2 separate regions of the Homo sapiens genome follow, and region 2 is linked to region 1. The links come from fine-mapping of genetic effects on gene expression. A gene starts in region 1. The other region holds a variant in brackets. All regions are shown on one strand. Distances are from middle to middle.

What was found. PIP is the estimated chance that this variant, and not a neighbour inherited with it, causes the effect.
Region 2: its variant is fine-mapped to the expression of WDR74 in whole blood (TOPMed, PIP above 0.99).

What each region holds. Positions count from the first base shown.
Region 1 is chr11:62,836,462-62,841,832 of GRCh38, reverse strand. WDR74 (WD repeat domain 74) reads left to right here and starts at 2,243. Exons shown (of 11, transcript NM_001369450.1): 1 at 2,243-2,326; 2 at 2,405-2,511; 3 at 2,598-2,719. The coding sequence starts at 2,263. It overlaps RNU2-2 (RNA, U2 small nuclear 2), which reads left to right and starts at 24; the gene lies at 24-214. RefSeq lists enhancers at 1-60, 61-674, 1,050-1,219, 1,850-1,989, 2,060-2,399 and 2 more and silencers at 30-149, 870-919.
Region 2 is chr11:62,746,649-62,752,019 of GRCh38, reverse strand. ZBTB3 (zinc finger and BTB domain containing 3) reads left to right here. Exons shown (of 2, transcript NM_001370809.1): 2 at 1-1,057. Among named protein-coding and RNA genes, the nearest start is that of ZBTB3, 4.8 kb to the left of the region's middle. The variant A/C (reference allele first, on the strand shown) is at 2,396.

The DNA of each region.
Region 1 (5,371 bases):
GCCGAGGCGACCGAAGTAAAGGTATCGCTTCTCGGCCTTTTGGCTAAGATCAAGTGTAGTATCTGTTCTTATCAGTTTAATATCTGATACGTCCTCTATCCGAGGACAATATATTAAATGGATTTTTGGAAATAGGAGATGGAATAGGAGCTTGCTCCGTCCACTCCACGCATCGACCTGGTATTGCAGTACTTCCAGGAACGGTGCACTCTCCCTTCGGGGAGAGAACAACCGTTGTTTAATGGAAGATTTCGATCAGTTAGGGTACAAGCTAAATAGTTATGTTCTTGTTGTTTGAGTTGGATTAGGTGTTTTTATCGCTAGTGTGTTGAATGACGCGTGTTTGAGTGTCTTGTTGAGAGAAGGTTTTGTTTTATAACTGAGCACGGAGCGTAGTATCTCCATGTGGTCTTCAGCAATCTTCATACTTCAGCCTCTGGGGTAGTTGGAACTATTGAGCGCTTGCCACCACCCCCGGCTAATGTTTTCCATTTTTATTTCTTATTTATTTTTTTTGAGACGTCGTCTTGCTCTGTCGCCCAGGCTAGAGTGCAATGGCATGATCTCAGCTCACTGCAACATCCGCCTCCCGGGTTCATGCGATTCTCCTGCATCAGCCTCCCGAGTGGCTGGGACTACAGGCGCCCGCCACCACGCCCAGCGAATTTTTATACTTTTAATAGAGACGGGGTTTCACCATGTTGGCCAGGGTGGTCTCCATCTCTTGACCTTGTGATCCGCCCGCTTCAGCCTCCCAAAGTGCTGGGAATACAGGCGTGAGCCACCGCGCCCGGCCTGTTTTGTATTTTTAGTGGAGACAGGGTTTCACAACGTGTTAACCAGGATGGTCTCGATCTCCTGAGCTCGTGATCCGCCCGCCTCGGCCTCCCAAAGTGGTGGGATTACAGGCGTGAGCCACCGCGCCCGGCCTGGTTTCGCGTTTGATGTGTTAAACCTAGGTCGCGCTCGGGGTTTCAAGCGTGAAATCCTAGCACTTCGGGAGGTTGGGGCGGGCGGATTGGGTAATTCCAGCCTGACTAACATGGTGTGAAAAATCCCGTCTTCACTAAAAAACCAAAAGAAAAGTGAATCAGGCCTGGTGGCGGGCGCTCTAGCCTGAGAGACAGAGCAAGATTCCATCTCAAAAAATAAATAAATCTTCGCGTTAGATAAAGGGTTTACTTGTAAACTGGTAATTTGTTGCTTTTCTGTGTTAATCTCTAGGTAAAGTAGCGACTTCCCTCTCCTATTTACGCATGCGCTATTACTGTATTTCTACTGAGCGATGACTTTCTCTGCGTTTCTCATGTAGCATAGCACAGAGTACTTTTAGTTGTTTTTGTTTTTTTTTTTTGAGACGGAGTCTCTGACGCCCAGGCTGGAGTGCAGTGGCGCAATCTCGGCTCACTGCAAGCTCCTCCTCCCGGGTTCACGCCATTCTCCTGCCTCAGCCTCCGGAGTAGCTGGGACTACAGGCGCCCGCCACCACGCCCGGCTAGTTTTGTTTTTGTATGTTTAGTAGAGACGGGGATTCACCGTGTTAGCCAAGATGGTCTCGATCTCCTGACCTCATGATCCGCCCGCCTCGGCCTCCCAAAGTGCTGGGATTACAGGCGTGAGCCACCGCGCCTCGCTGTCCGCCTCTTGAAGAGTAAACGAGGCCGGGCGCGGTGGTTTAGTAATACCAGCTGTAATCCCAGCTACTTGGGAGGCTGAGGCAGAAGAATCGCTTGAACCCGGGAGGCGGAGGTTGAGGTGAGAGGAGATCGCGCCATTGCACTCCAGCCTGGGCAACAAGGGCGAAGTTCTCTCAAAAGAAAAAAAAAATCGTCGGTTTCCTTTTCCCATCTTTCTTTCGTGACTTATATTCCAGAACGAAGCCCCACACATCATTAATGATTTGAATCGTTTCTAAAGTGTTTCTTAAATCGTTTCTTAAATCGTTTGTTGTTTCTTGTCTAACAGTCCAGAACACATATTACATAATGGAGCCGGGAGACAGACTAGGGCTGGCTTGATCCGGCCACGCAGTCCAGGAAAGGTGCTTTTCACCCCCAAGTGCAAAATGATCAATGTATTCTTCCGATCTACATAAACAAGCACCTCCTGGTTTCATTTTCGTAAAGCAAAACAAGCATGGAAGCTTTACTGTTTCGGCTCTTCAAACTTCCAGCAACTACACTGCGCTGCATCGGACTCGACGCCCGCTGGTGACGCACACGCTGCGCCGGAAGTGTGAACTGTCTGCCTCCAGGCTTTGTCATGGCGGCTGCTGCTGCACGCTGGAACCATGTGTGGGTCGGCACCGAGACTGGGATCTTGAAAGGTGGGTGGCAGGCTCGGGCGTCGGGAAGTGCAGGGGTGCACTCGCGCCCCTGGCGTGACTGACGCCTTCGTCTCTCAGGGGTAAATCTTCAGCGAAAACAGGCGGCGAACTTCACGGCCGGAGGACAGCCGCGGCGCGAGGAGGCAGTGAGCGCCCTGTGTTGGGGCACCGGCGGCGAGACCCAGGTGAGTGGCCCCTGGTCGGGCCGGAGCTGGGGGCCTGGGGCGCAGCAGCCTCGCTCTCCTCGCCATCTTGCCCTTCTTTGCCGCAGATGCTGGTGGGCTGCGCGGACAGGACGGTGAAGCACTTCAGCACCGAGGATGGCATATTCCAGGGTCAGAGACACTGCCCGGGCGGGGAGGGCATGTTCCGTGGCCTCGCCCAGGCCGACGGGTAAGACCAATCCCCTCGCTAAACTCAGGGCCGAAGGGAGAGCGTTGATGCTCCCTGAGGATACTGGAATGATGGCGACAGGCAAACTCTTAGTGACACGGCTTTGAATGGGTGACAGGGACCTGGGTTTCTGCCTTATGTAGTTCATACCTGTAACACACATTTATTGAACACCTACTGAATTCCAGGCACTGGGAGAAGTACAGGGGCTGCCGGTAAAATTTCTGCCTTCAAAAAGTTCTCATCCTCTAAGGTTTTTCACCTGACTCCATTATAATCCTCTAAGTAACCATGGGCAAGTCATTTAATAGTTTTGTGTGTGTGTGTGTTTGTTTTTTGTTTTTTTTTTTTTTGGAGACGGAGTTTTCGCTCTTGTTGCCCAGGCTGGAGTGCAGTGGCGCGATCTCGGCTCACTGCAACCTCCGCCTCCCGGGTTCAAGCGATACTCCTGCCTCAGCCTCCCAAGTACCTGGGATTACAGGCGTCTGCCACCACGCGCGGCTATTTTTGTATCTTTAGTAGAGACGGGGTTTCACCGTATTGGCTAGGCTGGTCTCGAACTCCTGACCTCAGGTGATCCACCTGCCTCGGACTCCCAAAGTGCTGGGATTACAGGCGTGAGCCACTGTGCCTGCTTGTCATTTAATAGTTTTAAGCAAGGCTGGGTGTGGTGGCTCATGCCTGTCATCCCAGCACTTTGGAAGGCCGAGATAGGTGGATCACTTGAGGTCAGGAGTTCAAGACCAGCCTGGCCAGCACGGTAAAACCCCTTCTCTACTAAAAAAATACAAAAATTATCCGGGTGTGGTGGCTCATGCCTGTAATCCCAGCTACTTGGGAGGCCGAGGCTGGAGAATCGCTTGAATCCGTCCCGCAGAGGTTGCAGTGAGCAGAGATCGCACCAGTGCACTCCAGTCTGTGAAACAGAGCAAGACTCCATCTCAAAAAAAACAACAAAAAAAGTTTTAAGCATGCATTCATTAATTCATTATTAATTCATTTATATTTTTTGAGACAGAGCCTCACTGTGTCACCTAGGCTTGAGTGCAGTGGTGCATTCATGGCTCACTACAGCCTCAACCTCCCGGGGTCAAACGATCCTCCCGCCTCAACCTCCTGAGTACCTGGGACCACAGGCAGGTGTCACCCTGCCCAGCTAAATTTTTAAGTTTTTTATAGAGATGGGGTCTCACTGTGTGCCCAGGCCAGTCTCAAACTCCTGGGCTCAACTTGAGCTCAACCACCAACAAGGTGATGTAGCTCTGAAAGCAAAGATTAGGAAGGTGCTAAGTGGTTGGATGACTGGCCTTGCTTTCTTCCAAAGATGATGAAAGAGGGCTGTGAAGCAGGCTGCATAGGTTTGGTGGTGGTAATTCTGACAGGTGAGGTCTGGAAAGCCTGTGGGGGGGACTGGATGTCTGAACTGGTTCTTGAGGGATGGGTAGAATTTTGACTGGTGGAGAAGGGGATAAGGGTATTCTAGAAAGAGGGTACTGCCTGGGAGAGGCCAAGGACTGGAGGCATGCTACAGGGTACATAAATAGGATAAATAGCATTTGATTTGGAAGTTGATAACAAGGAAGCGTTTTTTTTTTTTTGTTTTTTGTTTTTTTTTTATATACGGAGTCTCACTCTGTTGCCCAGGCTGGAGTGCAGTGGCACAGTCTCGGCTCACTGCAACTTCTGCCTCCCAGGCTCAAGCGATTCTCTTGCCTCAGCCTCCTGAGTAGCTGGGATTACAGGCATCCGCCACCACGCCCAGCTAAGTTTTTTTTGTATTTTTATTAGAGACAGGGTTTCACTATGTTGGCCAGGCTAGTCTGGAACTCCTGACCTCAGGCAATCCGCCCACCTCAGCCTCCCAAAATGCTGGGATTACAGGCGTGAACCACTGCACCCGGCCAAGGAAGCATTTTAATACAAGATGAACACTATATTAGGTTGGGATTAAATGTAAAGGGCTTTAAGTGCTAGGTTGAGAGATGTGCACTTTTATTGGTGTTGGTGAGTTATTCATTTATTGTTTTTGTTTTTCTGAGAGACGGAGTCTTGCTCTGTCACTGAGGCTGAAGTGCAGTGGCATGATCTCGGCTCACTGCAACCTCCACCTCCCTGGTTCAGGCGATTCTCCTGCCTCAACTTCCCAAGTAGCTAGGACTACAGGCATGTACCACCACACCCAGCTAATTTTTGTATTTTTTAGTAGAGACAAGATTTCACTATATGTTGGCCAGGCTGGTCTGGAACTCCTGACCTCAGGTGATCTGCCTGCCTTGGCCTCCCAAAGTGCTGGGATTATAGGCGTGAGCCACTGTGCCTGGCCAAGTTATCAGTTTTTGAATAGGAAGTACCATAGTCAGCACTGGGAGCCTGTAGGAGTATGGAGGATGGATTGGAGACAGCAACTGGGAGACTTTTGCCACAGGTCAGGCAAGTCGATACAGAGCCCGAACCCAGCTAGGGAGGGTTGGCAGGTGTGAGAAAGAACATAGGCGCAGGCTGTGCAGATCCTGGGGAGAGACTTGCTTGGACTTCTCGGGAGGGATATTTTAAGCAAGAGACTGACATTTAGTGCCTGAAACTCAGAGCAAGGAACCCAAGAAGTTGGTGTTTGACTTTGACCAAGCCCTAAATTCAGACCAGCCCTAGTAA
Region 2 (5,371 bases), 90 kb after region 1:
ATCACCCCTGCTGGGTGACAAGAATAAAGGCTCTGCCCAGGCTGAAAGTTCCTACCCTTTTTTTTTTTTAATCTTTTATTTTTTTGAGACAGAGTCTCACTCTGTCACCCAGACTGGAGTGCAGTGGCGCGATCTCGGCTCACTGCAAGCTCAGCCTCCCCGATTCACGCCATTCTCCTGCCTCAGCCTCCCGAGTAGCTGGGACTACAGGCGCCTATCACCATGCCTGGCTAATTTTTTTTGATTTTTAGTAGAGACAGGGTTTCACCGTGTTAGCCAGGATGGTCTCGATCTTCTGACAGATCTGACCTCGTGATCCGCCCATCTCCACCTCCCGCAGTGCTGGGATTACAGGCATGAGCCACCGCGCCCAGCTGCCTTTTTTTTTTTGAGTCTTGCTCTGTCACTGAGGCTGGAGTGCAGTGGCGCAATTTCAGCTCACTGCAACCTCTGCCTCCCAGGTTCAAGCGATTCCTTTTTTTTTTTTTTTTTTTGAGACAGAGTCTCACTCTGTCCCCCAGGCTGGAGTGCAGTGGCGCGATCTTGGCCCACCACGCCCGCCTAATTTTTTGTATTTTTTAGTAGAGACGGGGTTTCACCGTGTTAGTCAGGATGGTCTCGATCTCCTGACCTCGTGATCCACCCGCCTCAGCCTCCCAAAGTGCTGGGATTACAGGCTTGAGCCACCGTGCCTGGCCTCAAGCGATTCTCTTAACTCAGCCTCTTGAGTAGCTGGGATTACAGGAACGCGCCACCACGCCCAGCTAATTCCTGTATTTTTAGTAGAGACAGGGTTTCACCATGTTGGCCAGGCTGGTCTCAAATTCCTGACCCCAGGTGATCTGCCCACCTTGGCCTTAAAAAGTGCTGGGATTAAAGGCGTGAGCCACCATGCCCAGCCTCCTACCCTTTTCTTTGCCCAGCCAGATAAGCAGGACTTTATGGGGCAAAGCCTATGTCAGCTCTCTCCAAGGGCACTGGGAATTTTCCTGAGGTGTAATCGCTTCTCACTGTATGTTCTGGAACATAAAGCTAGCAATGAAGGTATTTCTTTGAACTGGTGTTGGCTGGTTTCTTCTAAAAACCTGCATGCTTTCATACCTCTCCTGCAGTTCTTTTTTTTTTTTTTTTTTTTTTTTTTGAGACGGAGTCTCTCTGTCACCCAGGCTGGAATGCAGTGGCGCGATCTCGGCTCACTGCCAGCTCCGCCTTCCTGGTTCACACCATTCTCCTGCCTCAGCCTCCCTAGTAGCTGGGACTACAGGCACCCACCACCAAGCCCGGCTAATTTTTTGTATTTTTAGTAGAGACAGGGTTTCACCGTGTTAGCCAGGATGGTCTCGATCTCCTGACCTCATGATCCGCCCGCCTCTGCCTCCCAAAGTGCTGGGATTACAGGCGTGAGCCACGGCTCTCCTTCAGTTCTTTTTGGAATGTTACATCTGTACTTGGGGTAGGGGTAGGGGTAGGGGTCAGACTGCTCATGAGGAAAAAAGTGGGACAGGCAGAGGGCGATGTAGCCTTTACTTAGGAGAAGTATAGAAATTAAGGAAGCTTATAAAATTATGATTTATTATTGCAGTCGAGCTGTCTTCTGGGCTTTATCAGACATTTCGTATAAATACTCATTTAATCCTCAACAACATTAGGAGGTATGAGGTCCACTTCCTGTTTTGTTTGTTGTTGTTCATAAACCTGAGACTTAGAAATCAAAGTTAACTTGTTCAGGGTCACAGAGGCTAGTTAAGGGGCAAGCCAGCATTTGAACCTGGCTTGCCACTGCAAACACCCTGCCTGCTATACTGGTTAAAAACATTGTTTCTTCCAGGTGTGGTGGCTCATGCCTGTAATACCAACACTTTGGGAGGCCGAGGTGACCAGCCTGCCCAACATGGTGAAACCCCATCTCTACTAAAAACACAAAAAAAATTGTCTAGGTATGGTGGCTCTCACCTGTAATTACAGCACTTTGGGAGGCCAATGCGGGCGGATCACTTGAGGTCAGGAGTTCAAGACCAGACTGGCCAACATGGTGAAACCGTCTCTACTAAAACTACAAAAATTAGCCAGGAGTGGTGGTGGGCGCCTGTAATCCCAGCTACCTGGGAGGCTGAGGCAGGAGAATCATTTGAACCCAGGAGGTAGAGGTTGCAGTGAGCTGAGATCACGCCACTGCACTTCAGCCTGGGTGACAAGACCGAAACTCCACCTCAAAAAAAAGAAAACAAAAATTATCCAGGCTTGGTGGCGGGTGCCTGTAATCCCAGCTACTCAGGAGGTTGAGGCAGGAGAATTGCTTGAACCTGGGAGGCGGAGGTTGCAGTGAGCCGAGATCGCATCATTGCATTCCAACCTGGGCAACAAGAGTGAGACTCTGTCTCAAAAAAAAAAAAAA[A/C]AACAACATTGTTTGAAGGGCTGTTGGGGTGGCTCATGCCTGTTCTCCCAGCACTTTGGGAGGCTGAGGTGAAGGATCGCTTGTGGCTAGGAGTTACAGATTAGCCTGGGCAACATAGTGAGGCCTGCCTGTCACTATAAAATAATAATGAAAAGTTGAACTTAGTTAACCAAGAACTGTAAGTTGTTTTCTTTTTCTGTCCTTTTGTGTATTTGGCTTTGTTGCCTTGTTACCTCTGCTTTCCCCACTGAAAGACCTTTTGTTGATAGAACAGGTACTGTATTGATGATCTGAAATTTTTGCCTCAAGTTGTAGATATGAATTGACTTCTTTGAAGATGAGAAACTGGAAGGCAGGAAACACTAAGGCCCATAGTGGCTGATTAGTGGTGGGAGGTTGAGGGTCTGAGGTGCTGTGGCAATGATGGGTACTTGCAAAACCTAAAGCGAGAAACTCAGGATGAGAGGATCTTACAGTTCATGTAGTCCAACTCCCTCACTTGAAAAGTGTGACGACAACAGTCTAGGGAGGTTTAGGTTACTCACCTAAGGTCACGCAGGTGGTTACTGACAGTGGAGATAGCAAAGAAATGGGAGTTTGGGGTGCCATCATGGGATGGGGGCAAAAAAGAGCTCTGGGAATGTGTGAGGAGTCTGGCCCCGCCTGTGCTGTAGGAGGGCCTAAAGGTTTGCCTACAAACTTTTTCTTGGTACGTAAGGACATGAGTGCAAATAAAGCAGGAAGGAAAACAGAAATACGCTGGTCGCGGTGGCTCACGCCTGTAATCCCAGCACTTTGGGAGGCCGAGGCGGGCGGATCACAAGGTCAGGAGTTGGAGACCAGGCTGGCCAACATAGTGAAACCCCATCTCTACTAAAAATACAAAAAATTAGCTGGGCGTGGTGGCAGGCGTCTGTAATCCCAGCTACTCGGGAGGCTGAGGCAGGAGAATTGCTTGAACCCGGGAGGCGGAGGTTGCAGTGAGCCGAGATCACGCCATTGCACTCCAACCCTGGGTGACAGTGCGAGACTCCATCTCAAAAAAGAAAAAAAGAAAAGGGGGAAAATGACAAGTAAATATTCTTCTCTCTTTTTGAGTCTGTGTCATATTCAGCACTGTGAACCCTTACCAGCAAGTGACTATTTTTGAGTTACAGGAAGGAAAGGTGAGCAGCCATGTGGCTAAAGAAAGCTCCTTAACTAGGACATATGGGAAGCAAAAGATGGTTAACATTTTTCTGCTGAATGAATTCTACATTCTTTCACATTCTTTGTGTTGAAATAAACTTCTAGCTTATCTTTCAAATGGCTCCTAATTTTATTTATGCAAGTACGTTACTGCTTTAATTCCTTGATGAAACAAGGCAAGATATAAATAAATACAATAAAAGCTATTCTAGCTGGGTAGAACACCTTTTCAAAAGTCTTCCCTAGAGTAAATATCAAATCAAAATGCCTTTATGAATCAGTTGCCCTTAAAAGGGTGGATTTTACGGTCTGAATATCTCAATTTCAACAGAAACACAAAACAGAAAAAAAAAAACCTGGTTGTCTCAGAACATCAGTTCTTAAAATCAAGGCATAATAAATGGTCTATATGTGTAGACAATTTTGATGTAGATGATCTCTCCAGACAGTCTGGGGAACACAGGAACCATTGTATTGATCAGACTGTGGTCACATGTACTACTTAGCTAAAGAGGTTCTGTTCCTGGTGAGATTCTCCTGAGAAGCAAGCATTTGCTTTCAATATCCAGCATAAAGGGCATGTTTTCTTGCAGGTGGCAGTCAGGAATTTGCAATATTTTAATTAATTAATTTATTTATTTATTTTGAGACAAGGTCTCTCTGTTTCCGAGGCTGGAGTGCAGTGGCACTATCACGACTCACTGCAGCCTCAACCCCTCTAGCTCCCAAGCAGCTGGAACTACAGGCATGCACTATCACGCATGGCTAATTTTTGTATCTTTTGTGGAGATGACGTTTCGCGCTGTTGCTCAGGCTGGTCTCAAACTCCTGGGCTCAAGCGATCCACCTGCCTTGGCCTCCCAAAGTGCTGGGATTTCAGGCATGAGCCATCATGCCCAGCCTGCAAGATATGTAAAGCAGTAGCTATCACAGTTACAGCCACTGTGGCCTCGTTATTATTACTATTTTTTGACGGAATTTCACTCTTGTTGCCCAGGCCAGAGTACAATGGCATGATCTTGGCTCAGTGCAATCTCGGCTCACTGCAACCTCCGCCTCCTGGGTTCAAGCGATTCTCCTGCCTCAGCCTCCCTAGTAGCTGGAATTACAGGCTGCGCCACCACGCCTGGTTAATTTTTTTTGTATTTTTAGTAGAGACGGGGTTTCTCCATGTTGGTCAGGCTGGTCTGGAACTCCCGACCTCAGATCCGCCCCGCCTCGGCCTCCCAAAGTGCTGGCATTATAGGTGTGAACCACCGCACCCAGCCTCATTTTATTTATTATTTTTTTTTTAGTTTGATTTTTTTTTTAGACAGAGTCTCCCTCTGTCACCCAGGCTGGAGTGCAGCGGTGGCTGGGATTACAGGAATAAGCCACCATACCCAGCCTGTGGCCTCAGTTTATCTACTGAATGGTAGGAACAGTTTATGCCCATTTGTAGAGATGTGATCAATAATTCTTTCTCATTTCCACTGGTCTTAATGCTCCCATTCAGGGATTCAAGGAACCATAGGCTCCTGGGGATCAGCTCATCTAATTTCTAGTCTAACACTGAATCCTCCTTTTGCCAGTTGTTATCAAACCTCCACTTGAGGCCGGGAATGGCACCTCACACCTAGAATTCCAGCACTCTGGGAGGCCGAGGTGGACAGATTATTGGGAGGTCAGGAGTTCAAGACCAGCCTGGCCAAGATGGTGAAACCCTGTCTCTACTAAAAATACAAAAATTAGGCAGGCATGTCAGTGTGCACACACCTGTGGTCCCAGCTAATTGCTTGGCGGCCAAGC